4 separate regions of the Homo sapiens genome follow, and all the other regions are linked to region 2. Evidence: fine-mapped expression QTL. A gene starts in region 2. Each other region holds a variant in brackets. All regions are shown on one strand. Distances are between the middles of the regions. Region 1 overlaps EML6 (EMAP like 6). Region 2 holds the start of EML6 (EMAP like 6). Region 3 overlaps EML6 (EMAP like 6). Region 4 overlaps EML6 (EMAP like 6).

The links. PIP is the estimated chance that this variant, and not a neighbour inherited with it, causes the effect.
Region 1: its variant is fine-mapped to the expression of EML6 in whole blood (TOPMed, PIP 0.98).
Region 3: its variant is fine-mapped to the expression of EML6 in whole blood (TOPMed, PIP 0.91).
Region 4: its variant is fine-mapped to the expression of EML6 in esophagus mucosa (GTEx, PIP 0.94).

The regions. Positions count from the first base shown.
Region 1 is chr2:54,753,718-54,761,823 of GRCh38, reverse strand. The region is part of intron 2 of EML6 (EMAP like 6); the gene reads right to left. Among named protein-coding and RNA genes, the nearest start is that of EML6-AS1, 6.7 kb to the right of the region's middle. RefSeq lists an enhancer at 6,043-6,112. The variant GA/A (reference allele first, on the strand shown) is at 4,312.
Region 2 is chr2:54,719,279-54,727,384 of GRCh38, reverse strand. EML6 (EMAP like 6) reads right to left here and starts at 3,723. Exons shown (of 42, transcript NM_001039753.4): 1 at 3,608-3,723; 2 at 2,127-2,836. The coding sequence starts at 2,323. RefSeq lists silencers at 2,520-2,669, 3,341-3,830 and an enhancer at 3,971-4,190.
Region 3 is chr2:54,783,064-54,791,169 of GRCh38, reverse strand. The region is part of intron 2 of EML6 (EMAP like 6); the gene reads right to left. Among named protein-coding and RNA genes, the nearest start is that of EML6-AS1, 36 kb to the right of the region's middle. The variant T/C (reference allele first, on the strand shown) is at 3,283.
Region 4 is chr2:54,959,862-54,967,967 of GRCh38, reverse strand. It overlaps EML6 (EMAP like 6), which reads right to left. Exons shown (of 42, transcript NM_001039753.4): 35 at 7,634-7,748; 36 at 5,257-5,445; 37 at 3,810-3,982; 38 at 3,235-3,397; 39 at 865-968. Among named protein-coding and RNA genes, the nearest start is that of RTN4, 87 kb to the left of the region's middle. RefSeq lists an enhancer at 1-475. The variant C/G (reference allele first, on the strand shown) is at 4,839.

The DNA.
Region 1 (8,106 bases), 34 kb before region 2:
TAACAAAGAAAATGTGTCAAAATACTAAAAATGGATGAAATCTGTGGACTATTCTTGCTATTTTTCTACAAGTTTGAAATGATTCCAAAATAAGTTTAAATAGACTTATATTTTAAACTTAAAGCATAGGTACCTCAACTATTTTTGACCATTTTAAACATTTCCATATCATAATTCAGACAAATTAAAGTCAAGCTATATCCACAGAGTTTATGATTTATGTTAGTGAAAGAATCACTTTTGACCAAATTGCAATGTGATTCATAAATGTCCACTTTTATGCCTTTGTGATTTTTTAAATGATCAACCAAATTTGATAATTTAATTACATTCACATATTATATACCTCAGATAAAACTAGTAAGCTGCTCTGAAAAGGGGAAATACCTTATTCAACTTTCTTACCAGAAATTATAAACACTGAAGGACTAAGCTTTGTTTAATCCCTGGTATTTCCCCAATTAATAAAAATAAGCACCTTCATTTATGCTTTTTTTTCAGTTAAGCATTAATAAAAAAGAAACAAAGCGTATTGTTTATTATCATATTTTTTGGTTCACAAAACTGCAAAATTCAAGTTTATAACATTAAACAAGTCCGTTCCACAAACTGGGAGTACTATGACTTTGGTAGTCTGTTTAAAATCATATTCTCAGATGAAATAACCATATGGAAAACAATTTCTCAACAATGATGAGAGTTATTATCATTTGGCTGCACTACCACTAAGAATAAAGTGGAATTAAAACCATAAAGCAGAGAAGCTGAAATCTAGTTTCTCAAATGCCTTGGGATTAACTTCACTAGCATAAACCTCAAAGATACTGATTACCAAACTCAGTACTTCCCAGATTAATAAAAACATTATTGGTCACCATTCATCATACTAAGCCTCATGCTTCTAGATTCAGGAGGTTTGTATTTCCCAGACACAGAGTAACTTCCATCTTTCAGTCTGTCCCAGATTCTTTTTCTAGTAAAAAAAAAAAAAAAAAAAAAAATGCTCCCTCAACTTCAAAGCAATGGGGAGAGAGAATGGATCTCATGTACACCTCCCATCTTTGAAATCTTCCGAATTCCAGGACAAAAGCAGTGATTCTCTGTCAAGGTTTGTTTGTATAAGGGAAAGATAGAAACTTACTTCTTCATATAAGAAAGAAAACCCAGATAAAATTACATTTGGCAAAACAAATTGAATTTGATAGTGTCATATACCGGCCAGATGGTAGGGAAACAGGTACTCTGCAAGCCTGCTGCCTCTAGGTACTGCAATTCTAGGCTATATTGAAACTGAAAATGGGCATACCTGTGACTAACCAAGTCCACCTCTAGATATCTCCCTAGAGGGCCACTCTCCCATGTGTGCAAGGATTCACTGAAACACTGTTTGAAAAGCAAAAGAACCTAGAAGTCTGTCAATAGGGGAATTTATGTAAAGAAATCAAGCACATGCATAAAGCAATACTCTGTTATGTTCTTGGGTAGTACGTGAATATAAAGATCTGAAAAATATATACCAAACTCATAGCAGTAGTGAATATCTGGGGAGCATGGAGGGAGACCAGGACAGGAAATGAAAGCTTCATTTGGAATGTTCTAAAATTAAAAAAAAAAAAAGAAAACTTATTCATGTATTACTTAAGTAGTTAAAAATTAATTTTCAATGATTAAAAATATGGATCGAGTCAAACACTAAATAAATCTAAGACCAAGATCAATTTGACTACAAAATAGTGGAAACTGAGAAAAACTGGAAGTTAGGCTATTTAAATTACTAACATTCTTAATGCATCAGAGTAATGGCCCAGAATCGGAGCCGGAGTCTTGATCCTGCTGTGTATAATGATCCTGCTGATATCTAGAGCAAGTTATCTTATTTCTCACCTACACTTAATCATTAAAATATATATAAATATATATTATATGTAAACAAAGATTTTATATATATATATATGGAGGGAAGGAAGTTTCCTCAACTATTAATTACATCTAATTTTGTCCAACCTCGAACTTCACTCTTGGATCACCTTAGCACAGCCTAACATTGGGATATAGTTAAAATGTCTCCATTTTGAGCAGATTCTGCATGCTCTCTCCTGAGCATTCACATGCTAGCTTGGTGATGAAGATGTGTTGGTATAAATCCAACTTTTCTTTAGATTTAAATGAGTTGGTACATGTAAAGTTTTTAGAGTTTTTAAAGTTTTTCTCTCTCCCCCAGATTTGGCATCCATTGCTAATTTATGTCTGAATTTATGACTTTTAAAAACTCTATAAAACCTTTAAAAGCTCCTTAAATGAATAAAGTTACTATGCGTTTAGTCAGCATTCAATAAATATTAGCAAATAATATTATTGCTATTTCCAAAATAAGTGACTCATTTTAGCACTTCCCCCATGATCTTATAATAGTTACCACCACTATTCTTTCTAGTATTACCATAAAATACTCCAGAAAACCAAGGTTACTCATTCAATTAGCTATAAAAAAAATTCTTTGGACAGTATTCCTAAACTCAAGTTTTGAAGATAGCTACATGAAATACCAGTCAAAGCCACTGTAAACTGTGGGCCTAATTATCAGATATGCATATTATTATTCATCTAGTATGAACTTGTCATTTCCTACTACCTGAAAAGAAGACATGCTAGACACAACAGACTGTTACACAGCTGTTTCATAATCACACATTTCACAAATGGAAAATGGAATTGAAAACATCCACCTAATGGAGGCTGCTTCACTGGGTCTAAGAGGGAGCCACACAAGAATACTGGGTCGTGTGCTGAGTGCCAAGCACTCCATCCCTATTTTTTGTTTTCAAGTGTGTGATCCATTATGTACTATATGTGGAAGTGATGAAAACAGGAAGAAAATCTATAGCTCAAAAAGGCAACTTATGAACCACCCATATTTTATGTTTGCAGAGCACCCCTGCATTACCCTACATTGCTCTATGAAGGAGTGTCACCTGGAATGTAGCAAAACTGGGATTAAAAAAACAATGCTCTCAGACCAATCTGTAACCCATCCCTGCAAAGCCTCTTAAAACAAGATATAGCATCATATTCTTTTATAAAATATTTACTGACACCTGGTTTGGGCCAGGTACTTTGGTAGGCACTAGATATTTAACAGTGAACAAGATAACATGATCCTGTCTTCCAGAATCAGTCACAAGGAAGAGAGAGACAAACAAATGGATGATATACTACAGGGTAATAAGTACTACGTTGGAGGAAGTATAATATACTAGGGGACAATACAGGGAATGGGGGACTGGGAAAACCGTCCCAGAGAAAATCACTTCTAAACAGAGATCTGAGAGATTAGTAAGAGACAGTGAAGCAAAGATGAGAAAATAGAACATTTCTGAAACCACACGTATAGAGGTCCAGAAATAAGAGAAACTATAAGAGCACATTCTGGGCCATCAGAAGCAAGGCAAAACCTACTCTGTAGGGATGTCTCCACAACCAGGACATACAGGACTCCCACCAGAAATAGTATTACACTGGACAAAGAAAACAAGTCACTGTAAGGAAGACTCAGGAGACACAGCAAGCAAGACAATTAGCATCCCTTCTTTCCACCCACTCCCCTCTCCCTTCAGGACTTGAAAACAATAGAACAGCTGGAAAGATTTTAAATCTATTTAAAATCAATAAAAAGATGAAGGTGTAGATATCACATGGTAAGAATAATGCATACGAGAACAGAAGAAAAGTGAAAGTCAAATAAAACTCATAGAAATGAAAATTACGGTGACTGGCATTCAAAATCCAATGCAAGACTTTCAGTTTTAAAGCATTTATCTATGCTTCTTGCCAAATTGAAAAGATAGGGAGTTATTTTAAAAGACACAGGCCCACAAAGACAAAGAGAACAAGAAGAAAGGATAAAGTATGCAAAAGAAACCTTGAAGAAAAAAAAAAAAAAAGGAGCTGGAAAGCAAATGAGTAAGTGGTGACTGATTTTAGAACCCTAAGAAATCTAAGCCTACCAGGGCGAGGGTGGGAGGAAGAAGGGGGAAGTCAGAAAGAAGCAGCCAGCTCACAGCCGGAAACCTGGAAAGGCTCAGGGCCTTGCAGATACATATCCTGAAGGCTGGAGTGGAGGGAGGGGGTGAAAGTAGGAGGACTAGTTGAGAGCTTGTGTAAAGAACAGTGAGTCCACCAGAATCCTCCTCTCACCCAGCAGAACTCTGGAGATTTACTCTCTGGGGCTGCCCAGCTGAGGAAAGCTCATACAGGAAGTTAAGTGAGTCGGCGGCCTTGTGAACCATAAAACCTCTCTCCATTTTACTCCTG[GA/A]ACACTTGCCACCAGGTATACTGCATACCCCACGGTCACCCCCAGGCAAGAGATTGGAGGTTCCTTTCTGGGGAAACTGACCAACACAAGAGAAAATGCCCCTCCATCCTGACATTGTATTACAGCATCCTCCATTGCAAAGGCGGTGCACCACCTTAACACCCTATGGTGAAACCACTCATCAACACTGCCCCTCATATAGAGCTCCCAATTTGCTTTCAGGGGTCTTGCTCTTAAATACAAAGAGAGCCAAAGCCTGCCCAACATCTGATGAAAGCCTTGAACCTAAAAGTTAAAGACCAATACAAATATACAGGAGAAAAAGGGAATGCTGAGGTGACAGAGAAAAGGAAGGAGACATAAGGGAGGGACATAATTAATATACTCAGAAAAAAGAAAAAATATGGCAATATATTGAAACAAGAAGGTATAAAAAAGAAAAATTCAGTAAATTTTTAAAAAGCATTTTAAAATATAAAATATAAAAATAAAAATTCAACCGATTTGAATGACAAAATAGAAAAATCTACCAGAAAATAGAAAACAATAATAATAAGGAAAATAGGATTACAATTACAGATCCAGGAGGTCTCAAAACTACCAAAAAGCTTTGAAGAAGAAAGAGCAAAGAGAATGGAAAGGAAGGCAAGAAAACATTCCAGAACTGAGACTCAGGAGTTTGTAGGTTGAAAGGCCCAAAAAAGGCAAGATCAATGGATGGAAGACCCAAACAAAGCCACATTATTGTTAAATTTCAGTATGCCAGGAATAATGACCCAGAGTATCAGAGAAAACCACAACAAAAATAAATTAGAAATCCTACCTTTTAAGAAAATAACCCCAAATCAAAAAAAAGGCTTTTTGTAGAAAAAAATGCTCCTGAGAACATCATTTATAAAAAGGAAAATATAAACTTAAAAAAAGATTTTTTTAAAAAGGAAAATAAAAGAAACACCCTACTGCCCAAATACAAGAGAAATGGTTCAAGAAACTGCTGTGTATGACAATATAAAATCAGGACCAAAACCCAAACTTGTATAAACAGCATGCTCACAGACATAAAAACATAAGCACATTAAAGGAAACAGAATGAATATCCATTAAAATGTTAACATTTAGACATCCACTCTGTGTTGGACAAAGTGAATTTTATTCTACCAACCTTTCCATTGAGAACTTCTATAAAAGCTAGATAAAATTAAAGAGCACAGTCGATTGAAGACACTGATGAACAAACCAAAGCAGGAGGAATTTTAGGGGCAGGGATCCTGACAGAAGAGCAATGCCCTGAACATTAAAGTAAGCCCTAAATTTCACCCACTCTGCCTCCTTGGGGCATTTACCAATTTGCAGTGCAGAGCCCAGAGGGTAAGCAGAAACTGCCACCTATCGCTCACGGCATTCTCACTGAATGAGAGAAACAAAACTTAGAATTCAGGGCTTCCAAGGCAGCCTAAACTTAAGGAAGAGGGCCAAGATCCAAATTAAAAATGGTATGGCAGAGAGGAAAGTCCAACCCTCTGCATACAATTTCCCCTTAAGGTATTTGCCGATTCCTAACCAGTACATACAAGAAGGAAGAGCTTTCTTAGCCAAGCAGAAAACAGCGGTTAAGAGGTTAAAAACCTAAGCAGAACCACCCTGGGCAACATGATGAAACTCCGTCTCTACTAAAAATAGAAAAATTAGCCAGGCGTGGTTGCCTGCACCTGTAGTCCCAGCTACTCAGAGGCTGAGGTGGGAGGATCGCTTGAGCCTGGGAGGTGGAGGGTGCAGTGAGCTGAGATCACACCACTGCACTCCAGTCTGAGTAACAGAGCCAAACCCTGTCTCGAAAAAACTAAAAAATTATATTTCTATATACTAGCAAAAATAATTAGAAAATGAACATTGAAAGTATACCATCTGCAATAGCATCAAAACCCATCAAATACGTAGAGATGAACATCAAAAGATGGATAAGACTTCCTCCAGAAAATTATAAACCATTACTAAGAGAACAAAGTAGAGGGATATATCATTTTCATGGATTGGAAGACTCAATATTATAAAGATGTCAATTCTCTCCAAAGTGATTTATACAATCAATATAATCTCAATCAAAATATCAGCAGGTTTTTAATGGAAATTGACAGATCAATTCTAAAACTGATACAGAAATACAAAGGACGCAGAATACTCAAGACAACTCTGAAGAAGTACCACAAAGTCAGAGAGGTTATATTCTCAGAGTTCAAACTGCAGTAATTAAAACAGCGTGGCGTCAGTGCAAGGATGAAGACTAATGGATCAGAATGGAATCCAGAAACAGACTTATTAGGGCTGCCTGATTTATGACAAGGTTGCCACTAGTTCAATGGGTTAAAAAATGATCTTTTCAATAATAGATCTGGGTTAACTGTATATCTGTATTTAAAAAACAAATTGCTAATCATGACCATCTCATAAAATCATTTCCATTGGATCACAGACCTAAATTTTAAAGGTAAATCAATAAAGTTTCTGGAACTGTGGTATCCATTGTGGTAACCACTAGCTACATGTGACTAACTACATTTAATTTTGAATTAATTAAAATCTAATAAAATTTAAAATTTAGCTTTCACTAACCACATTTTAAGTGGCCAGTAGCCAAATGTGACTAGTGGGCTACCACTGGACAGTACAAACATAGAACATTTCTGCACTTCAGAAAGTTCTACTGGACAGTGCCGTTTTGAGAAGATTACATAGGAAAATCTTTACATAACCCTGAATTGGGGAAATATTTCATTAACAGGACCCAGACAGCACTAATCATAAAGTAAAAGATTGATAAAGATTGATAAATTGGACTTCACTAAATAAAGAATGTCTGATCATCAAAGAATACAAATGCAAGCCACAGAATGGGAGAAGATATTTGAAATATAGAATTGACAAAGTACTCATATCCAGTATATATAAATAACTCATATATATCAATAAGAAAAAGACAGGCAACCCAGTTATTTCAAATGGTCAAAAAGACCTGAAGAGGCACTTCACAAAAGAGGGTATCAAAATGGTCACTAAGCACATGAAAAGGTGCTTGTACTAGTTTCCTATTGCTGCCATAATAGGAAATTACCATGAACTTAGTGGCTTCAAACAACACAAATGTACTAACTTACAGTTCTGAAAGTCAGGTGTCCAAAATGTGTCTCAATGAACGAAAATCAAGATTTTCAAGGCTGACTAGTGGTCAGATTTTCAAGACAGGTGCAGTGGCTCCCACCTGTAATCGCAGCTAACTCAAGAGGCTGAGGCAGGAGGATTGCTTGAGGCCAGGAGTTTGAGGCCAGCTTGGGTAACGTAGCAAGATTCTGTCTCTAAAAAAAAAAAAAATTTTTTTTTTTGAGACGGAGTCTCGCTCTGTCTCCCAGACTGGAATGCAGTGGTGTGATCTCGACTCACTGCAACCTCCGCCTCCTGGGTTCAAGCAATTCTCCTGCCTCAGCCTCCCGAGTAACTGGGACTACAGGTGCAGGCTGCCACACCCGGCTAATTTTTCTATTTTTAGTAGAGACAGGGAGTCACCATGTTGGTCAGGCTGGTCTCGAACTCCTGACCTCGTGATCCACCCGCCTTGGTCTCCCAAAGTGCTGGGATTACAGGTGTGAGCCATCGCGCCCAGCCAAAAAAATTTTTTTAATTAGCCAGACATGGTGATGTGCACCTGTAGTCCCAACTACTCGGGAGGCTGAGGCCAGAGAATCACTTGAGCTTGAGGCCTGGAGTTCGAGGCTGCAGTGAGCTATGACTGTACCACTGCA
Region 2 (8,106 bases):
CATTGAACTTAATTTTATTCTTGTGTACAAAGACATATTTGGATGTTAAGGAACTCTGCTCTGCTCTGCTCACCTATACATACTCTGACCCAACCAAATATTGTGGAGAATTATGAATACAGTCCTTCCTCTGAAATCAGGCTTACTACTATGTCACTAAAGTAGCTTAATGAATAGATCAGATGCTAACTGTCTCTTTTTCCCTTCATCAGTTAAGGCTCCCTGCAAACCCAGTTATACACATCACTTCATTCACCTTTTCTTCAAATCTGAATGTTTCCTTAACCACCCAAGCTAGATTTCATCACATCCCACTAGCCCGGCTGCTTGTCATAACAACGGTTTACTGCAACTCCACCCTTTTCCCACCTTCAGCTTCAACAGTGCATTTGGTTTTTTTCCTTGTATCAGAGAAAAAATTAGGATTAGGAGTTCAAATCCACAAAGTAGTTCAGTGAACTGTCACATTAATATTATTTAACCACAGAGAATTTTCTGTTTAATTGCCACTCTCTCCCTTCACCCAAAGGACTACATCTTATTTTGATGCTGTAATGGAAAGCACTGCATTAAGACAGAGAGAGCAAAAACATAATGGGTTTAAATTTTTAAACATCTAACCTTTTCATGAGTCATTGTTAATCATTTGCACCTGTAACTTTCATAATCAGCCTAGCAATTAGAGAAGCAAAATCTGCAGAACAAAACTATGTAAGGATGCCCCAAGCACAACAACTACCATGTTAGGGAGGGAAGAAAAAAAGCTATTTGTGTCATACGTGACATGAAAAAAGTTTTACATGCTAGTTCCACTAAATCTTGAGAACATTAGCACTCCCATCTTCAAAAAAAGTCAAGATTTTTTAAAATCTGTAGTTTGAATATTAAGTGCTTGCCTTCTGTAACAATTTTTCAACTTTAGGTCTCAGAAAAAAAAAAGGCTCTGGAATATAAGCACATCATTAGGAAGGGAAAAAAAAGCTGATCTTTGAAATCATTCTCTGCACTGAGAAATTAGGAGCATGGACATGACATCACTTCATTTATTTCATTGTGAAAGACAAACTTAGAGCAAAAGTGGCAATATTCTGAGAATGTAATGGTAGTTGTTCTACATCAATGAAACACACAAGTTTGGAAGGTATAAATATGGTCTCTGTCAGTTGTAGTCCATCCTCAGCAAGTCATTTTCCCTGTGGGCTGAGGCTCCCATATGACGAAAATCTTCCTTAACTGCTGAAGGCTGAAAAGGATTCCCTGTGAACAGCATCTGGCCCATACCTTGTTTGCTCACATAAAAGCTGACAAGGGCTGGAGGAAAATGTGTCTGGTCCAAAGATGAGAGGATAGGGCCAAGAATCACAATATAACCCCTTTCCATTTAATCGGGAGGGCCCCTAAAACGGCCATTCATCCAAATGAGCTCTCCTGTCAGTCAGTCTTGGGCCATCCGCTAGCAGATGTTGGTCATTGTGTGGGCTGGCTGGTAGGATTTTGTGATCCAGCAGCTGCCAGCCTTTAATAACCTCAATGATGCTGTGGAAGCATCCATTTAGTGTATAAATATGCTTTGGGCATTAAAACACTGCCAAGTGAAATATTAGAGAACAAACTCCCCACCCACTGCAGAAATTTCCCAGGTCCAAAGCATCTGAGATGAAGATTCCAAATTACCAGTAGTAAAATTTCTTTTAGATCTTTTTTAATCCTCTTGCTTACTGAGAAACCCACTGAGGAGCCTCCCAAAGATGATGCCCACACTTCAGGTTATTGGTCCTACCGTGCACCTGGTTAGGGAAGGAAGAAGTGTTTCATAGTTACCCAGGCTCCTTCCACTTGTAGCAGGAAAGAACAGCAAGAAAGCATCAGAACACTCAACTCCTTGGAGATTTAAAAGCCAGAATTCCGGAGGGATACAGCGAAAAGACATCTCTCCCTCCTCACCTACACTCCCCACACTGTTTCTGCCCTGGCCCTAGAATCAGCAGCCCTTCAGTAATTCCATGCGGCTCCAGAGAGAATCCTCTATTCCACGGGGCTCCCGGATCCGACCCCAGGTCAACCGCTTCCCACCTTCCCAGCCTCCACACGCAACCCCTCCCCGCCGCCCCTGGCCACCCCCTTACCTGATAATGTCGTCGTTGTGTCCCAGGAAGAATTTTTGGCTGTGCTCGCGGGTGTTGTAAACCACCCCGACCCCAGCCACAAAGTAGACCACCTCCTTGCCTGCCGTGTAGTACAGGTTGTTGCGGCACTGGTGACCCCGGTACCCGTACACCCACTCCAGCCGGAGCTGGCAGCGGGGCGCCGTCCGATCCGCCATGATAAGCCGACCCCGCGCGCCCCCCGCCCCCCCGCGCGCCGGGGCCGTCCTCGCCGAGGCTGGGGCTGCGGCGGACCTGCAGGGGCTCAGCGCGCGGCGCAGGGCGCTGATTTCCGCGGCGACACACAGGCACAGCCCAGCGGGCCGGCCGCCACCATCATCCGCTGCAGCCGCCGCAGACAAGCCGCCGCCGCCGGTGTGCGGCCGCCAGACCCCGCCGGGCGCCGGGCTCCCTCTACCCGGGCAAGGCGGCTCTGGGGGCGCCGGCACCGGCGCGCGCGCCTCACTGCACCTGCGGGCTCCGGCCCCCGGGAGAGGCTCTCGGGGGGGCCACCCCGCCTTTTACATCAGGAATCTGCATATCCCAACAGCGATCACCCAGTTCGCTCACTGAAGTTTGCGGTGCGCCGGGGCTTCGCGGCAGGCGGCGGGATTTATTCTGCGATAGCCTTGATTTGACAGGCAACCCGGGTGAGCTCTGCCATCGCCGTCTTTGGATCCGAAATTGACAGTCTATATCCAGGAAGCGAGAGCGAGGAAGAAAGAAACAGATTTTTCGCATAAGTCACCCAATCCAAGAAAATTATCCCCAAACTAAACCAAGTTGGGTATTTTTAAAAATTGTCCCCTACTCCCGCTTTCTCTCTCCAGTTCCATCTCCTTAATGATATGAAATATGCGTAAATGCTGCTGCCTGGCAGTTGCTGATGCGATTTGAAGGAACGCTTGCTGTTTCCCTAATAAGCGAGGGCGAATATGCAATGGTCATTTTTTAGATGCTCCAATTAGTTTTCATGTGTGTGTTTAATAATCATATCCTCCGTGAACCTTCTCTTCACCGAGAAAGCCATAAAGAACTTAGCAGCTCTCATTGATCAGCAACTCCAATCCGCATCATGAAAGATTGTCTTACTCGGAAGAAACGAGGCACTAGTGCAGTCGGAGGGAGTGCGCTACCTACAAACGCTCCTGGTCGAGGAGAAATCAAATAACAAGTGGCAAAAATCGTGTACTTCTCCCCAGAAACCTCTGCGCTAAACACCGGGTCCCACGGAATCCCGGGTCCTGCCCTGAGCCCAGCGTGGAGAGGGGTCGCCCGAGGGACCCGGGGGACAGCAACCCCCCACAGACGCACACGTCCCGGGGGTCGGCGCGCTGCGCGAGGGATGCCCGCCCTCAGGACTGTTCGGCCCGCGCGCACTGCCGCCCTGGCGGCGCCCTGCACTCCTCCCACTCTCGAACCAGCCTCGCCCGCGGAGCATCCGCGCGCTCTCTGCCTCTAACCTCTGCTGCCAGCGGACGCCACCGGCGCGTCCCGGATCCCGCGCGGGCGAGCGAGCGAAATCCTCTGCCTGCCCTCCCCTCCCCGCCTCCCGCACCCGGGGATGGACTTCGTCACTGGGGCGCCGCGGGAGACAGGTTCTTCCTCCAGCCGGGGCTCCGGGGGCGGGGCCACAACGCCGCGCTAGTGAACCTCAGCTGCCGGTTACTAGGCGAGATCTCGCCGCTTGGAAACAGCGACGCCCCGGAGGACTGGGGCCGCCCCCTCCCTCTGCCTGTCCCTGTGGCCTCTTCCCCCGACGCATCCTGGGAAGTGTAGTCCTCTCTGCGCCGGTTAGGGCGGACAGCGCGCGGAAGGGACCACAAGTCCCAGGATTCCGCGCGCCCAGAGGGAGTCGCAGCGAGACCTGTACCGGCGTCAGCGGAGCCTGCGGCTCTCGGGGTGAGGAGATCCCGGCTCACCAAGGACGATTGCCTGCCCACGCGGGCGTTCCCTTGTGACTGAGGCGGGAGCTGGCGTGCGTGGGTCTCTGTAGAGAAAAGCGGTGGAGTTGGAATGGAGACGGTCTCCCAGCCCACCACTGGAATTTCTCCTTCATCGGTCTCTGAGTGTTGCTGTAACCGACATCCTCACCATGCTGTAACTGACTCAAGCTTAAGTTTGTTTCCTACTTAAGTTTTCCTTTTCATTCACATGGATTTTAATTTGTTAAAGTGCAGTTCTGCCAAGTTTAAGAAAAATGCTGGGAATGTGAGCTCACTTCTGCCCTAAGAACCAGCGTCTTCCCATGACCTGCGTCCTAAATTAGAGGACTTGGGTATTTACAGATAACCGGAGGTTGGAAGCAGGAAGGTGCTCACGCCATGAACAGCTAACCTTGGCCTTCAAACGCAGAAGCTGGTGGCATTTCTCCTAAAACTGCCCGAGATGAACTATGAATCCACTGTGTTCTCAAGTAGCCTATTTCCAATTTAGGGCCATAGCTAGTCTTTGGAAAGAGATTTCAAAATCCCAGTGACTAAGAGGCTGCAAAAGGATGATGGATTGGACGTTTGGAACGTCCTTTCCCTCCCATGCTTTCAGTGTAATCGCTTACTCAGTTCATCTCCCTCAAGTTTTAAGACAACCCTCCGACCTGGTAGGAAAGCTCGAAAGAACTGGAAGTGCCAGAGTTTGGATGATTTGTTGCTGCCCGCAGTAATGAGGATTTGAATTGGTCTCATCTTTGTTTTTAAGGAAACAGAATCAACAAATAAGTGAGATGGCACTGTGCTAGGCAACAAGAACACTGCCAAAAACAAAAACACGGCCTGAGAAAGGTTTGAGATAGAAGCAAAAATATAGTTGATCAATGATGTCGTGCCATAAAACAGTGCCAAATGAATTATATAAAGACAGTAAGTTTTTGTTGTTCTTTTTGTTTTGTTTTGTTTTGAGACAAAACAGGCCGTTGCCCAGGCTAGAATATCGTGATCTTGGCTCACTGCAACCTCCGCCTCCTGGGTTCAAACGATTATCCTGCCTCAGCCTCCTGTGTAGCTGGGATTACAGATACGCACCACCACGCCCAGCTAATTTTTGTATTTTTAGTAGAGACAGGGTTTCGCCCTGTTGGCCAGGCTGGTCTCCAACTCCCGACCTCAGGTGTTCTGCCCGCCTCGGCTTCCCAAATTGCTGGGATTACAGGCATGAGCCACTGTGCCTGGCCAGTAAGTTCTATATAAGAATTCAGAAGAGGAAGAGTTTTTCCAGATAAAATACATCAGGAAAAGTTTCATGGAGGAACTAGGAAATATAGATAGAATTGAGATAAGTAAAGATAAATTGAAAGAGCGTTCTACATGCGTTTAGGGAATAAACAAAAGTGTAGATGCAGAAAAGTGGATTTAGAGAACACTAAAGAGAATACCCAGTTTGGTGCAAGGGAGAATTCATATAAGATCAAGAGGACACATGAAAGGTTAGATTGTAGATGGAGCTCAGCATAGGGGTTTGCGCTGTATCCTTAAAATAATGGAGTCATTGATTTTTTGAATAAAAATAAGGGAATAGCAATGAAAGCAGTAATCAAAGCATGAGGTATTAGAAGTCTGGGGTAGTGCTTGAGGCTGCGTTAGAGATAGTGGCAGTGGTCTAGAAAGGAAGAGACACTTTCCAGAGAAAATGTACAAATGTATTGAAAAGAAGTCTCTTAAATAGAAATGGATGGAACATATTCATTTCCTAAATTATCTTTAGTATAACTAATGACCCCCATGCTGTACCAGACTGTTAAATGAGTTGGAGGAGTAAGTCTGAGTCAGCCACTTACAATTGTAACCTTAGGCAAATCACTAAATCCTCTGATCTTTACTCTCCTCATTTAATAAAGTATAGCAGTACTCACCCCACAGGATAATTGTAAGAATGAAACAAAGTAATACATACGTGAAAAGTTAATTTGTAAAGCATTAGATAAATGTTAATTATTACTATATGGCAGTAGATAGTAACCTCTACTTGAAAGTGTCAAATAAGACTGGTAGTGTCCTTTGGAAATAAGCAGTATTAAAAAGCATGAGTAAAACTCATAATATAATAACATTATGTTGTTGTAATGAATAGCAGTTACTATGTTCCAGGCACTATAAATGGTGCTTTACGTGTATCAGATAATTTGATCTTCACCCCAGTAATAATCCTATGAAGTAGTTACTGTTATTTCCTCATTTTACAGATGAAGAAATGAAGGTAAGGAAAGTTTAAGTAACTTGCCCAGGAATGCACAAAATAGTGACAAAGCCTGGATTTGAACTCAGGCAGTCTGACTCCAGACGCTGCTCTTAAATGCTAAGAATGATGAAAGAAATTGTTTAGATGGTAGAGTAAGTTCACCTGTAAATGAAACCCAAAATAGCCATGATTTAAACTTGATAGAATTTTATTTCTCACAAAAACCTGGAGGTAGTACAGGCCTAGAATGATGGCTCTGCTTAAAGGAATCCTTGAGTACTCAGGCTACTGGCAGCATGCCAGCATTCTGCTCTGCTGTCCCTAGACCTCATGGTCCAAGATGTAGTACTAGCCATCAAACGTACATTTCAAGTACATTTCAAAGAAGAGAAGGGTCATGGGGCACATCCTGGCTGCCTTTAAAAGGAAGATGCTCAAAAGCTACCCTAGGCCAGGCACAGTGCCTCACACCTGTAATCCCAACACTTTGGGAGGCCAAGGCGGGAGGACTGCTTGAGCCCAGGAGTACTAGACCAGGCTGGGCTTTGGTGACACTCCTTCTCTACAAAAACTACAAAAATAGCTGGGTGTAGTGGCACAGGCCTGTAGTCCCAGCTACTCAGGAGGCTGAGGTGGAAGGAATTGCTTAAGCCCAGGAGATTGAGGCTGCAGTGAGCTGTTACCACGCCATTAGACTATAGCCTGGGCAACAGAGTGAGATCTCAAAATAAAAAAGAAAAAGCTACCCCAAGTCTTTTCTGTTTATATGCTATTGGTCTGAACTTAGTTATGTAGGCATACCTAGCTGCAAGGAGATTTAGGAACTAGTTTTTATTCTGGGCAACCATGTACCTAACTAAAAATAGAGGATTCTTAAACTGTGGGAAAAAAATAAATGGCACTTTACATCCCTTATCTCTCTAAATCCTTACAACAACCCTATGAGTAGATAACTTCATTTTAATGTGAGGAAACTGAGACCCAGAAAATAAGTAATTTAACCAAGATTATTCAATAAGTGGCAGAACCAGAATCAAATTTAGGTCTGTCCAACTACAGAACCAGTGTTATTAACCACTACTCCCATACCTCCCAACCCAAGACATAGATCCATTTATTATTAAACGATGAGAAAGTAATACTTGAGTAAAGCAAAGTCTCAGAATTTACTTCCTGAAGTTTCCTAAATAATAAGAGGGAAAAAGATTCAACAAACAGTAGTAAGGACAGAAGATAAGTTGAAAAACTCATGAAAATTCTCACAAAAAATGCTCCAATTTGGAAAAGTAAAATGTAAGTATACATTTTTAGAGGCTGAGGTGAAGAAGGGGCATACGTTAGAGAAGATCCTACATATTACTTTAGGTCTTCAGCAAAAATAGTTTCACCAGGACCTGCCATCATCAGGGAGATGGTTGAATGATGGTTGTACTATGCAGAGTCAAAGGAATAATCCAACATTCATAGGTGTGAGATATATCTTTGGCTGCATGGGATACGTCCTGGAACTGGTCATTTCATAGTACCTTAAGCAAGAGCAAAACCTTGTCTCTTAGTGGAGGCTGTACTTAGTCCCAGTAGATTTCACCCATTTTCCTGCTCTACTCTTTTCCAATATTAGGCTACAGAAAAGTGGGGAGGGGGGGAAACAGTAGTCAGCCACCATATTTTAGCTCTGAGAAGATCAGTTCATTCCTAGATAAAGTGGGAAGGATGTAAACAATAACTTATATAAAATATATCAGAATAGATACATGATCTAGAAATAGCTGCCCCTATCCAAACTGAG
Region 3 (8,106 bases), 64 kb before region 2:
CTACACGTCCTCCCTCACCTCTCTGAATTTCTCTTCACACCTATTATATTTTTTGTAATATTTATTCAGAAGAAATGCTGAATGGTGATAATGCAATAACTTAGGCCTGTGACTGTTTGCTTCAAAGTTTGAAAATTAAGTTACCGGCCGGGCGCGGTGGCTCACGCCTGTAATTCCAGCACTTTGGGAGGCCGAGGCGGGCGGATCACGAGGTCAGGAGATCGAGACCATCCTGGCTAACATGGTGAAACCCCGTCTCTACTAAAAATACAAAAAATTAGCTGGGCGCGGTGGCAGGCGCCTGTAGTCCCAGCTACTCGGGAGGCTGAGGCAGGAGAATGGTGTGAACCTGGGAGGCGGAGCTTGCAGTGAGCCAAGATCGCGCCACTGCACTCCAGCCTGGGCGACAGAGCGTAACTCCGTCTCAAAAAAAAAAAAAAAAAAAGGAAAATTAAGTTACCAATGTCCTCTATACACAATAGGGTCCTGATACTAATATGGATGTGAATGATCAACTGTGGGAAAGCCTGGTGATAAGTACGTCAAAAATATAACCAGTTTCTTGCTTCTAAGTCTATTAAAATGTAGGTCCTTGGCTTCCAAATGCTGGTATCTGAATGATACAAGAATGGACCCTCCAGCCGTGAAATGGGTGGTGACAATAGAGTATGGTGTTGTACACACAGATTAAGAGTGCAAATATTGTCAATGTTTATATTTCCCACTAGTTGTAAACTTACTCTGCAATTCAGAGTACAGCTCACAGAGTTAGGGTGCTTCCCCGCTCCACAATGAATCTGAAATTACCTAAGTATTTTCTGGGCACAATAAAAATTAACCTAGTTAACTCACTAATATGTCAATGAAAACAATATATACATATGTGGGAAGACAGTGGGAGAGAAAATAGAAAGTGGATGAATTGTCACCATACACACAGCAAGTTATCTAATTTGCTTTTCAATTGGCTCATTAGAAATAAGTGCCCACTATTCAATCTCTCTTATAAAAATCACTAGTCATTACTAAGTTTTCAGATATATGAACTGAAATTATGCAATGTCATCGGAAGACATTCTTTGAACAAATATTTACTTAATGCTGACTATTCTTAGATCTCCCTCTTGTACAGGTTACCTGTGCATTTTTCATCATTTAAAAATACAACACATATACGCATTGCAAAAATAAGATGAATCCCCACCACACACACATACCATGAAGCTCATTCTCATTTGGGTCCAAGAGCCAGAGAAGTCAATCAGTATTTGTAGATATTCTGTGTCATAAAGCTCTCCCTGTACTTACTATTTAGGTAGAAGCAAGCCCTGGTAAGGAAAGCAGCATGTGTGCTGGAGTTAACTCTGGATTCAAATTCCTTCTATTCTACCTATTAGGACCATGTCTGAGCCTTAGTTTGCTCATCTGCAAGATGAGAATATTAACTCCCTTCTGGATATCATGAGGATATAATTAAATAAGGTAGAGTTTGTAAAGCATCCAATACAGTATCTGGCACATGACAGAAGAAGAGAAGAAAACCAATACAAGTACGGAAGACAACATCAGGTGGGCCAGTTACGTCCCACCCATGTCTACTTTGGAAAGCACATTCTTTTTCTTTTTTTTTTTTTTTTTTTTTTTTTTTTTTTTTTTGAGACGAAGTCTCGCTCTGTGGCCCAGGCGGGAGTGCAGTGGCGTAATCTCGGCTCACTGCAAGCTCCGCCTCCCGGGTTCACGCCATTCTCCTGCCTCAGCCTCCCGAGTAGCTGGGACTACAGGCGCCCGCCATCACGCCCGGCTAATTTTTTTGTATTTTTAGTAGAGACGGGGTTTCACCGTGTTAGCCAGGATGGTCTCGATCTCCTGACCTCGTGATCCGCCCGCCTTGGCCTCCCAAAGTGCTGGGATTACAAGCGTGAGCCACCGCGCCCGGCCGGAAAGCACATTCTTTCTAAAGGTCACCATAACACTTGCTAAAAATTAAATGTTTCATTGTTTTTGCTGTTTTTGTTTGTTTACGCAAGTATCTTCCAGAAGCTATTTATTGGAATAAAACCAAAGTGCTGAAGGAATTAAGCAGAGACAGAACACATGAAAGAGAAAGGATAACAGATGATGGATATAAGAAAGAATAAAAAGCAAAAAGATAGCAAACCTGCCTCATTTTATTAAGAAATGTAAGCAAGTGGCAAAGGGGGTGGGGCGGATGGAGAAGGGAATAGAAAGCCAATGTTACTAACCATTGGATTCAGCGTTAAGTCTATGGAACTCCAACCAGTCAGAAATGACTTTCCATTTTTCATCTAGCCAATGGAAATGAAACATGTATTTTAAACAATAAAGTCAATAAAAACTTCAGGAGAAATAATGTTTTGATTCCTAAAATATATGTTCTGAAGAGTTTGGCCCTATTTTTCAAAAAGCCAATTAGTGTTCACCACCGTTTCACACCAAAACAACAGGAATTTCCAATAAAATGACTGATAAGCCATTCTATTAGACAAGTTAATATAACCAGCCAAATAACCAGTTATTTTGGCGAAATCTTGTTTGATCATTTTGCTAAGCTTCAATTTTCCTCTAACTTGGTCTTGAGGTCTCTCTCTGGAGAGTAGCTATCGATTCTAGACCTGCTGGGGCGGGGGGCGGCCCCAGATGTTTATAGTGTTTCTCACAGAATACCTCTTTTCCCAGCTGGACGCCTAATCCTAAGCGTGGACACATGACCAGATGCCCCTCTCACAGAAAACTCGGTTATAGTGGCAGCCACCCTTGTAGATCTTCTCTCACCTGGGTCCAGCCCTGACCAGGAAGGGAGTTAGGTTCAAGTGAGACACAGGAGCCGGCACAACAAAACACATGAAATAACAGAAGCCGGTGTTACTTACAGATGCCAGAGAGAAGAGGGCAGCCCGCCTTGCAGGCCAACAGGAAGCGGGAGCCATCTGGAACCTATGTGCTCAACCAGTAAGTGGGCAGCTAGCGAGCGAGTGAGCGAGAACCTGGCGACCTAAGCCTTTATTAAGGTCCACGGGTGTTCTGCCGTAGGCTTTCCACAGGGCAGTGGTTGGCTAGTTTAAAGAAAACACGTGCGAAGGGAGGGGGTCTAATTTACCTGACTCTGATGTTGACCATCAGGTTTCATCATGGTCAACAGCTGTGGGGTGTGCTGGGTTTTTGGGTCTGCGAGATGAGGAACAGGCAGGCTACAGCAGAAACCACCGCACAGGTGAGGGAAGTTTCAACTAGGCCTCGGGGGACGGGGTGTGTACAACCGGG[T/C]TTCAAATAACTTAGGTCTGGCCTAAAAATTGATGCAGAAGGAGCAATGATATTAAACAAATTTATGACAATGGACACTTGAACAAATTCCACCTAAACACACAGGCTACCTTAAACATGTGAAACAAACCTCCTATAAAATCTGATTTGAGATCTTAAGGAAGTACCCCAGACTGAGACATCTCCAGACACGACTCCCAAGTTCCCCATGAGCAAAATGCTCCACTTTATTGCTAAAGATTGCTTCAGTTCCATAAGCATTTATTAATCATTCAGTGACATTAGCTACTATTTATCGATCAATTACTATGCGGTACTTTACACATTATCTCATTTAATGCTCAAGAACAATCCAATAGGATAAACAAACTTATCTCTCTTTACAGACAAACATACTGCGGCTCACGGAGGTTAAGGAACTTGCCCAGGCCACACAGCTGGTAAGTGGCAGAGCCAAGATTCAGACCTAGGTCTGTATGACTACAATTCAATCTTTTCATAACTCAATCTTCCTCTGGTTTACTTTTAAAATATAAATACTTGAAATTCTCATTAAAAACTGACATCTGGGTTCACACAAAGACCCCCCCCCAACCCTCACCCATCTCATTGACAAGGCTCAGACCATGGGAGCCTTGTCAGGTATTTCTATGAAACGATATTGATGGGAAAATGAGAGCATTTGGTCACTTCGAGAACTACCAACCCCTGAACCAGCCCCCTACCCGCTTTCTCTCCCACCAACGCACACTGCACAACTCCCCGAAGCCCTGCTGAACCTACTTAGGCAGTGCCTGCCTGGCCTGGAGACCTCAGTGGGCACACCTGAGGCACTCATCTTTCAAAAAGAACCTAAGTCTTCTCATGTTCTAACCTCTCCCTGCCCCACTCTTCCCAGATCCATAATCAGAGGCAGATTTCAACTGCACTGGGAGTCAAACAAAGAGTCAAGCCCGAGAGAAAAAGGCTTACACACCAAAAGAATGGCACTATTTTGCAAACTTACAAACTTGTATATGTTTAACAAGTTTCACTTGTCCAGTATATATTTGGGGAACCTGTGTGGGAATGAATTCCGAGGAAAGGGGAGAACATTACTTTAACCTGGGCTTTAGAGACCAGCTGTCTTAACAGAGCCTCTGGATTCAACATGGAAACTCGAGCATCTGGGAATTATTCTAATTGTTTGCTCCATTTCTTTGTTGAAATCTGGACTCAATGGAGTCCTATAATATTTGCCAGAAACTCAGTATAATGGAGAGGAATGTGTGTTGTGGGTTCTACCTTGTGTAAACTGTCCACCTCCCTATACCGCTATGTCCCCTGAAAGGGTACAGGAGATTCTTCCTTCACCACAACCCACTGGTGGGGTAGGTAGCGGGTGCGGTAGCAGCACTTGAGCAGGGGAGGGGACCCCACTGTGGCTGAGCACTGTTCTCCGTTGTGTGGTCTTTGGCTCTCCTAGAGATCCTGTGAATGTCCCAATACCCTTCAATAAGTGACTTTCTGCTTATGTAAATACCTAGATTGTTTGCTGTCAAGAATTGTAACACCTCAGTCCAGGGTACTTTCTGCTACCCTAAGGTGTTTAAGATAAGAGTAGCAAAAAAGGGCTGGGACTAGAGACCTAGGGAATGACCCTCCTTGAAGACAGGGCAGAGAGAAAACTTCCAGGGAAAAGAGACACTCAGGGAATAAGCATAGGAGCCACAGGGCCCAGCCATCTCCTCCTCTACTGCCCCGGTGGGACTTCTCAAATTGATTACACCAGAAAAAACAGAAGGCTCCCTACAATGGGTGCTCTCAGCTAGCTCCTTTACCCCAACACCCTGGGTGGCCGCTCCACCTCTAGCTCCTTTACCCCAACACCCTGGGTAGCCACTCCACTTCCTCCTGGCCATAACCATGCCCTAAATTGCACACACACACACATACAAATATATATATATATATTTATATATACAGTTGATCCTTAGACGACACAAGCTTGAAATGTGCTGGTTCACTTATACTCAAATTTTCCCAGTAAATACACTAAAACATTTTTTTGGAGATTTGTGACAATTTGAAAAAACTCAAAAATGAACCGTGTAGCCTAGAAATACTGAAAAAAATTAAGAAAGAGATATGTCATGAATGCAAAAAGTATATGTAAACACTGGTCTATTTTATCATTTGCTACCATAAAATTTATACAAATGTATAATAAAACATTAAAACTTATGAAAACTTACACACAGACAGTACATGGAATCATTCACAGTCGAGATAAATGTAAACACATATAAAGATGCAGTATTAAATCATAACTGCATAAAATTAACTATAGTGCACACTGTACCTCTGTAGTACTTTGCTATTGTGGTGAACTTAAGTGTTGTGAGTATCCCTTAAAAGGCCATGGGGGCCAGGCACAGTGGCTCACACCTTTGGGTGGCTGAGGCAGTAACTCTGGGAGGCCGAGGTGGGAGGATCACTTGAGGTCCGGAGTTCAAGACCAGCCTGGCAACATGGTGAAACCCCGTCTCTACTAAAAATACAAAAATAAGCCAGGCGTGGTGGCTCACACCTGTAATCCCAGCTGCTCGAGAGGCTGAGGCACGAGAATCACTTGAACCTGGGTGGCAGACGTTGTGGTGAGCCGAGATTGCGCCACTGCACTCCAGTCTGGGCAACATAGTGAGACTCCGTCTTAAAAAAAAAAAAAAAAAAAAAAAGTGTGTGTGTGGGGGGGTGGAAATCTCTTGAAGTTCTCTCGTATTTTTCATCATGTTTAGTGCAATACTATAAACCTGAAATAACACTGTGGGACCCCCTGTGAAGTGCCACTAGTGATCTAGGCTGGAGGTGTTCCCAAAGAAGCACAGAAAAGTCATCATATTACAAGAAAATGGTGAATTGCTTGAGATTTGCCATAGACTGAGGTCTGCAGCTGCAGTTGCCTGCTATGTCAGACAGACAATTCATCCTGTAAACAGATGATGTACTCTTATGGTATTGACAAATACAATACAGTACTGTAAGGGTATTTTTCTCTTCCTTATGATTTTCTTAACAATTTGTTTTCTCTAGCTTCCTTTAAGAATAGCATGTGGGGCTTAATACCTCGATGATGGGTTGATAGGTGCACACATTTACCTATGTAACAAACCTGCACATGTATCCTGGAACTTAAAATAAATTTAAAAAAAAAGAATACAGTATATAATACATATAACATAGAAAATATGTGTTAATGGACTGTTTCTGTTATTGGTAAGGCTTCTTGTCAACAGCATGCTATTAGTAGTTAAGTTTTGGGGAGTCAGAAAGTTCTACTTGGATTTTCACCGCAAGGGGGTGGGGGTAGCATCCCTAAGTCCCATTTTATTTGAGGGTCAGATGTGTAACACCCAATATTGGCAAAGCAGGCTATACAAATTCATTATTAGTGGTACGGTAAAGTCTTATAACACTTTTGAAAATACATATGGTAACAAGTTGCAAAAGGTTTATTAGTATTTATACTCTTACCTGGTAATTCTACTCATAAATATTTATTCTAATATAGCAAAAAAGTGATAGGCACAATATAGTTAGTTGCTTGCTAATTGATTTAAAAATTTACAACTTCATAAAGATCTAACATTAAAGAACAGTTCAGGCCAGGTGCAGTGGCTCATGCCTATAATCCCAACACTTTGGGAGGCTGAGGTAGGAGGACCATTTGAGCCCAAGAGTTTGAGACCAGCCTGGGCAACATAGCAAGATCCCCATCTCTACAAAAAAAATAAATAATTAGGCATGAGTAGCACATGCCTGTAGTCCTAGCTACTTAGGAAGCTAAGGCAGGATATTCACTTGAGCCCTGGATTTCGAGGCTACCATGAACTATGATCACGACTGTACTCCAGCCTGGGCAATACCACAAGACCTTATCTCAAAAAAAAATTGAAACAGTTCAATAAATTATGGAACATGAACATAATAATACACTAATGTGCAGATATTTAAAATCTTGCAATGTGGATTTACCTATATTAACATGAGAGAAAATAGAATACAAAATAGCATGTACAGTCTCATTACAAGTATATCAATGATACATATTTATAGTATTATACAAAAAGAAAATACTGTAGTCAATTTTTAGGGTGGTGAAAGTAAGAATTATTTTAATCTCATTTTTAAAAATCTTGTCTTCTCAAAATCTTTTTAAAAAATCAAGCCTCAAAAACATTTCAGTGAATATAATCATCACAGTCGTTTCAAACTAGCCGCAATTCAGCATAAACTACAGCTAATTACACGGACAATTCTTTCCTTGCCACACCAGATATCCACATTTGACTAAATTTTTTAAATTAGATTGAGAAAAGGTATATGTCTCTATTTCACTTCCTTAAATCTAAAATCAACTACAGCTTTGTTCCAGATATGAAAAGAACTTTTAAAGGCTGTGTACAAACTGACCTAATGGTATTACAGAAAACAATTTGTGATGTTCTGAATGTTATTTGAAACACTAGCTAAAGGGAAAATTTTAAAGCATAAATTAAAAATCTAGACTTAAGCTTGATTTTTACTTGCAATATAACAGAGTGTTTCATTACATAGTTATATCCAGAACAATAAAAAAGAAATATGCATATACATCAATTGCCATGGAATATGAATAATTTCTTATTTTATGAGATAAGACATGAGGTCAGTAAATGACATTTCCCAGGCATTGTAATAAAGCATTTTCTATGTAGGATGTAATACAGTATGATGTAACTTTTATTAGTTATTATTTACTGATCGACTATAATATATGCACGCATACATACCTATATTAACTTC
Region 4 (8,106 bases), 240 kb before region 2:
ACCGACCGCAGGGCAGGAGGTGAGCAGTGGTGGCGGAGCATTACCACCTGAACTCCGCCTCCTGTCAGATCTGCCGCAGCATTAGAGTCTCATAGGAGTGCGAACCCTATTGTGAACTAAGCATGCGAGGGATCTAGGTTGCAAGCTCCTTATGAGGTGGAACAGTTTCATCCCGAAACCCCACCCCCTACCTGGTCTCTGGAAAAATTGTATTCCATGAAATTGGTCCCTGGTGCTGTTTTATGTAATTCAGTACAGCCATGTGGCTCTCCTGGCATGAAAGCATCTGTCCCCTTCCCCTCTGTACATTTGTGCCAGCTCTTACTGTTCCCCCTCTGCCTCAGTTCCCTACACTCCAAAAACACAAGTTACCCCCATCTTTGATTCTCTCCCTGTTCCCTGTGGTCCTCTTGAATATGTGTGTGTTGGGGAGAACAGCAGGGGTTCCTTTCAACTCACAGACTAAATGGTCTCTTTTCCCATGAATTAGCCATTGTTTCTCATCCTGCTAAGCCGGGGTCTGGCCCTCCCACTCCCTTCCCCTAGCGAATGGAGGCCTCACTGTGCACTAGGATTGGCCAAGAGACGGGAGATGGTTTCCTGTTGAACTTGCTGGAAGGGGTTGGAGACTTGTAGAAGAAATTACACAAAAAGAGGGGCTTCGCATTTCAAAAACCTAGGTCAGATCAAAGCCAGTGACCTAAACTAGACTAGCCAAGAAGCCTCCCACCCTCACCCCCAAAAGAAAAGACAGCTCCATTTCTCAGCTTCTTCAGATCCTGCACAGACTTGGAGGCTGAGCCTGAGTGAGACAAGAGACTCCCTTGTGACCTTTTCCTCAAGTTTTTTCTTCCAGTCAGTCACCTTGTCCAGGAGGCCCAGGTGATCTTCTCAATGACCACGGCTTCAGTTACCTGCTTCCCCAGGGGGACCTCATGCACCTGGCGCTTATAGGCACCTGTTGACACCTGTAGGTAGAAGGGAAGCCATGTTCATCAACGTTCTTTCTCAGTCCCACAGACTCCCTTTGGGCACAGTTTCCCAGAACACTGCCCAGCCTCTGCATCCCTAGGGCTTTTCTCCAAACCCAAGCTCAGCTCCAGGCTGCAAAGCCTATGGCCAGCCCATGACAACAACAGCAGGCCATTTTCCCATCTTTCTTCTCATCCATTTTCTCGCTATTTTCCAGAGTCCTAAGATAGCGGTTCTCTGAGTGTGGTTCCCGACCAGCAACGTCAGCTGCATCTAGAAATGTGTTAGAAATGCAAATTTTTGGGCCCCACCCCAAACCTACCCAGACAGACACCGAAAGGGTGGGGCCCAGCAGTCTCTGCTGTAACAAAGCCGCCAGGTGTTTCTGATACACAGGAATCCCAGTTCACAGGAAACCAAGAACCTTTGGTACAGAGGTAAGGCAGGTTTCTCATGGACAGTGGGTGACACAGATGATCTCTGAGGTGTCTAGAACCTGAACCTCGGTGCTCTGGGAGTCTTCTAAAGGAAACAGACCATTTTTCCTACCATCAAGACATTTGCAGTGAATGGCTGCTGCCCTTCCTGTTCAGCTTCCTCTCTCCCTGCAGTGCTTCTCCTGGAATGAGCTGGGAAGCTGAGCTCTTTCCTGCCTCAGGGCTTTCATGCAGATGGCCTGGAACAATGTTCCCACCTCTCTGTTGGCTAACACCTACACACCCTGCAGACCTCAGCTTAAATATCACTTGCTGAGAGGAAGTGCATCTAAATTCAGCACCTTGTTACATGCTCCCCGGAATGCTGTACTTTTCCTTCTTGGCACATAATCACAATTTGTAATTATATTTATATTTTGTGATTGTCTGTTTAGTGCTTGTCTTCTCTGTTATAGAGCAAGCTCCAGGAAGCAGGGACTGAAACTGCCTTTGCAAAATTATGATTGAGACAGTGAAAGAGATCTAACTTAACTGGCTCCATCTTGTTTCTAACCTCCATGCTGTCCTTGTTCATTCCTGGATGTAGGCTGAACTAACTTTGGGAGAAAGTTTATAGTTTATGGTTTAAACAAAGATGGTAGCAGCCCTTTCCCAAAGCAGACCTCCTTCTTGCCTGGGGACCAGATTGCCTTTGTAGGATTAACATTAGCCAAAAGATTAGAAATTATGGTTTAGGAGTCATGTAGCTGGAGGCTACAAGATTCTGACCCTCAAACTGCTCCTAAATTCAGCGCTTGAGATATTTTGCAGACCGTGCACTTGATGGATCAGCTGGCCCCACCCAGATCAATACACTGGCTCATCTGATCTTGTGGCCCCCACCCAGGAAGTGACTTAGTGCAGGAAGACAGCTTCAACTCCCTATGATTTCATCTCTGACCAATTAGCACTCCTGGTTCACTGGCTTCCCCCCACCCACCAAATTATCCTTAACAACTCTGCTTCCGGAATGCTCAGGGAGACCAATTTGAGTAATAATAAAACTCCGGTCTCCCGCACAGCCAGCTCTGCGTGAATTACTCTTTCTCTATTGCAATTCCCCTGTCTTGAGAAATGGGCTCTGTCTAGGCAGCCGGCAAGGTGAACCCCTTGGGTGGTTACGGGACCAGTCTCATTTTGTCCATCTAAAAGTCTAGCATAGTGCCCGGTTCAGCAAATAGTTGAATGAATAAATACATCCTCTCTCCTTTTACAGTGAATATCCAGCTCCAGGCCAGCTCACAAACGCAGATTTCTTGAGTGCTAGAGAAATCATTCTGTTTTTAGGGATCAGTCCCAGCAGTGGAACCCTCTCCCTCCCTTCCACCGGTCAGTTCCCCTGGGACCCAGGGATGAGCTTTCACTCCAGGCCCACTGGCTGGAGTCCAGGGCCCACGTATGGAGGGGCCATTCTACCCAGTAGAGTTGGGAAAGACATGAATAAATACCAGAAGCGGCACAAGGCTTAGGTGTAGCCCCAGAAAACTAGAAATCAGGAAACTCTGAAGAGGAGGTGGTGAGGGGCAGATTAAAGATGATTAGGGCTTGTGTTTCCTGTTTTTCTTACTCTTTATTATTTTAAATTCTATTTCCTCCACGTTCTTAAATTCTCTAAGCCTCTGTTTCTACATTTATAAAATATGGAAAAAGTAACTACTTAAGGAGTTCTGGTGAAGAGTGAGTTAGCACATTGCCTGGTACACAGTAAGGACTCGATTAATATAGGCCATTGTTATTACTGCTGTTATTATTGGTTGCCCCAGATATAAGTAAACCCCAAGCATACCTGAATGTATTTGCCATCCGCAGAAAAATCCATCTGAATGACAAAGCTTGGGATATCTTTGCAGTAGCCAATGCGGTTCAGATTTGTGCCCTGAGTGAGGTCATAGAAGTCAACTGTGTGTTCAGAAGAACCAACGGCTAAGAATCGGTTGTCTGGGCTGATTCTAGAAAAAGCAATCCGAGAGCAGAGTCCATGAGGAGGGCTGTTTGGGGCTGGTCAGGCACGAAGGCTGGTCTGTGACAGGCCTTCCAGGCCTAAAGGCAATGAGAGCCACCTTGTGACTCACATGTGGTCAGCCTCTCCTGGCATTCTACGGAATTCAACAATTTATCTGGATCGAATCCCCGGGAAATATGTAGAATGACATTTACAAGTAATTTTAACCACACTTTTATGGAAATTAGCAAAGACTTGTCTAAGAGTGAGAGTGGGAGAAGGTATTCTTTCATAGGTGGCTTGTTGAAAGTGACCCTCTCACAACTGAGTTCTTTATTCCAGCCGTGGCTGGAATGGGAACCACTGGTAAGCAGAATGCTTGCCTTTCTCCTCCATGCCCAGACCACCCACTTAGGTACCTGATATCTTGGATAGCAGATTTCCGGTCTCGTTTTTTCCCCCAAACTTTCAGGCTGTTCACCAACAAGATGACAAACTCTCCATTCTTCATGCCAATGGCCACCATCTCCCCATCAGGGCTGTAGGCTGCACACCTGGCCGCATGGCCCAAGCTCACCTTGTTTAACAGCTTCTACATTGATGCAAAGGAAAGTCACCTGAGCTCTTGGCCCCCTCAGCTGGTCTCCAGGAGACATTCTGCACCAGGCCAGAGAAGTCAGGCTGCCCTCGCAGCCACTGCAGGCCACCAAATCTCTTGCTTCTTAGAGTAAATGTCCCTGAATAACTGAGCAGAGCTGTATGTCTTGATTAGAGCAGCTTGGGGGACAACAAGTTTTAGGGCACAGGCTGCCCAGCTTTTTCTGTAAATGATTAGGTAGCACCCACTTTAGACTCTGTGGGCCATAGTCTCTGTCGCAACTACTCACCTTTGCCACTGTAGCACAAGACAGCCTCAGTACCTGAATAAATGAGGGCAGCTGGACTTGTAGAAACAGGCCACAGGCCCGATCTGGCCTTTAACTGTAGATTGCCAACCTCTTCTTTAGGGGAAAGAGTGTGAGCTTCTGCCTCTGCTAGTTCAAATTCTGAATCCTGGCCCTGTCACTTACTAGCTGGGTGTGTTTGGGTAAATTACATCTCAGTTTTTAGAGTTTTACTAATAGCGATGTTAATAAGGGTTTTGCAAGGTTATTGTAGGCACTGATCATGTCCATGAAGCAGCTGGTGTTATGTAGTTAGTCAAGTAGTGACAGCTGTTGCTAATAATGTTTAATAAATAATTACAGAAACTAACTTAAAAGTCTAGCAACCATACTCAAGCTTTTACCTGACTATTCTGTGACTCTGACACTAAAAATACAACAAACACTTACCAGCCATTTTAAAATGAAACCAAGTATTTTAATTAGTTGAACTTGAGTACTTGTTTTAACACTGGATAAGGCCATGAGGATCGGCAAGAACTCTTTGTTCCCTCCCACCCACCC[C/G]GCTCCGCCCAGCCACTCCTTGCTATTTCACAGTTTTACTCCAGATGAACTTTAACATTGCCTTCCCAAGCTCTAAGAGAAACCTTGTTGGGATTTTGACAGAAATACATTAGGCCCATTTCAGAACATTTCACATTTTAAATCATTTTTAGTCTTCTCATCCAGGGAAAACATGATTTGTCTCTATATTTTTAGTTTTGTGGGTTCTTTCATGACAACAGAATAATCCTTCTCAATTATATTGTTTAGACGGGGTGTGGTGAGTGGGGCTTCTTTTATCGTTAGGTTTTCTAACTCGATCTCCTACCTGGCCCCATCCCCGTCTCTGCCATGACGCTGGCTGGGCCTCTCCTCGCTCAGCTCCCACTGCCGCGCAGCCCACTCGTGGGCATCTGAGTTTGGGCAGAGTCGGCCTCACCTTGTCAGCCAGGTCCCAGATCCGGGCTGTGCCATCGTTGCTGGCAGAGATGAAGAGGTCCTTGGAAGGGTGAGTGGCCAGGCCCCAGATCTCCCCTTCCATGTGACCATCAATCAGGATGTTAGAAGCAGCATTTTTTTCACCAACTTCAATTATTTCTCCGTCTTTGGTTCCCACTAAGATTTTTCCCTGTTGTAATTGAAACACTATTAGAAAAAGGACAAATACTGTATGACTGCACTCATATGAGGTATCTAGAGTAGACAAATTCATGGAGACAGAAAGTAGAATGATGACTGCCGGTGAATGGGGGTGGTGGACAGGGGAGTCAGTGTTCAGTGGGTACAGTTACAGTTTTGCAAGAAAAGTTCTGTGGATGGTGGTGATGGCTGCACAACATGTGAATGCACCTAATGCCACTGAATTGTATATTTACAAATGGTCAAAATGGTCAATTTTATGTCTATTTGGCCACAGTTAAAAAAATTTAAAACACCACTATTATTAGAAAAACTTGGGGATTGCTTGAGCCCAGGAATTTGAGGTTGCAGTGAGCTATGATGATGGTACCACTGCACTCCAGCCTGGGTGACACAGTGAGACCCTGTCTTTAAAAAAAAAAAAAAAACAAGTAACTTGAGAAAATGCCTTTGCAGTGTTAATATTAAAATAAGAAGGGGTGAGAAGTGTTGTTTTTGTTTGTTTTTTGAGGCAGGGTCTCACTCTGTCACCCAGGCTGGAGTGCAGTGGTGACATCTTGGCTCACTGCAACCTCTGCCTCCTGGGTTCAAGCGATTCTCCTGCCTCAGCCTCCCCAGTAGCTAGGACTACAGGTGCCCGCCACCACATCTGGCTAATTTTTGTATTTTTAGTAGAGATGGGGTTTTACCATATTGGCCAGGTGGTCTCGAACTCCTGACCTCAAGTGATGTGCCTGCCTCTTGGCCTCCCAGAGTGCTGGGATTACAGGTGTGAGCCACCATGCCTGGCCAGTGTTTTGTTTTTAACAACAAACTGTCCATTCTTAATTGCTCTTCTCCACCCTCTTACTTTGCCCTTTCTCCATCAGCTACCTCAGGTGAGAGCTTCAGCACAGACTCCTCCATCACCCAGCCTCTGCCAGAATATTCCAGTGACTGCAGAGCAAAGCAGCCAATTCTCCTGTTCTTGGACAGCTCAAGCTCTTAGTAAGTTCTTCCTTCCACTGAACAAAAATCTGCTTCCTGGCCAGGTGTGATGGCTCACGCCTGTAATCCCAGCACTTTGGGAGGCCGTGGTGGGTGGATCACCTGAGGTCAGGAGTTTTGAGAACAGCCTGGCCAACATGGGAAAACCCCATCTCTACTAAAAATACAAAAAATTAGCTGGGCATGGTGGTGGGCACCTGTAATCCCAGCTACTTGGGAGGCTGAGGCAGGAGAATCGCTCGAACCCAAGAGGTATAGGTTGCAGTGAGTTGAGATCATGCCACAGTACTCCCCCTGGGCAACAGAGCAAGACTCCGTCTCAAAAAAAAAAAAAAAAAAACTACTTCCTGATAACTTCCAGGCTCCAGGCATAGTCCTGCCTTCATCTCCCATAACTACCCTTCCAGGTGGGCATCACTTAGCTATTTAAGAACAAAATCCCCAGTTTTGAATCATGTGGTACTCCATATCCAGTTTGCCTTTTTCATGGACAGCATCTAGAAAGCAAATTCTTAGACTGATATTTAAAAACAAACACAAGGTATTCAATAGAAGTTTGGAGATTGGCTTTTAAGTGCATCAAATCTCCTGGGGGAATTTAAATAGAAGGAAATAGAAGGAAACATACAGGTCCAGGTCCCACTCCTGAGATTCTGATTCACCAGCTCCAGGTGGGTGCCCGGACATCCATATTCTTTAAAACCCGACAGTTGTTTTTGATACGCTACCCAAATATGAGTTGGAAACCAATGGCTTTGAGTCAGACAGTTTGGTGGCCCTTACCCTCCTCCTTACTGGCCCTATAGCTTAGGGCATGGGCAAACTATTTAGTATCTCTGAGCTTATGAGGATATCATCTATAATACTAGTAGCTAACATCTCCTGAATGGGACTATATGCCAGGTAAGATGAAAGGCACTGTCATGTATAAATATGTGACCCTCACAAAAACCTCATGACAAACCTGTGTGCTGGACACAAAAACATTAAGGAACACACCCAAGGTCACCCAGCTGGTTCTTCCTGGGGGAGTCTGACTCTCTTAAGCTGCTTCCCACTACAGCACAATTCATGTATTGAGGCCTTGTTTCAAGGAGTAAACAAACCAGCCCAGAGAAAGTGCCGGCTGGGAGGGTACCTACACTTCCCCCTTCCCTGGCCCAGCCCCCAGGGGAGCTGGCTGTGCTCACTTTTCCACGGCACACGGAGCGCACACACTCCACCAGCTGCCCGGTCTCCAGCTGAAAGGCCCGGCAGCGCTTCATCTCCTGGTCCCACAATTTTACAGCACCTCCTTCTTTGGTCCTAAAAAAGATTGAAAGGGACTCAGGCTGTTAACCCTCATCCTAAGACCCACTACCCCCTCCGGCCCTCTCCCCTCTTTCCCAGTCATCAGGGTTCTGGCCAGTTGGGGCCCAGAAGGAAAGACCCTCCAGGGTCCAGACCCTCCAGGCAGCCTCTCTCTTAGGCCCTGGTGCTAAGCAATCCCAACCTCCTGAGCTTGCAGATTTCCTAAAATGCCTTCAAATGCTACTATCTTGGGAGGAAAGAAAACGTAATTTGGAAATTCAGACTTTTTATTAGATTAGAACACAGAAATGTTTCTCCTGTCTTCAGGCTTTGCTTCTGCATCTCCCCTCTTCTCCTCCTTCCTCCATTCCTC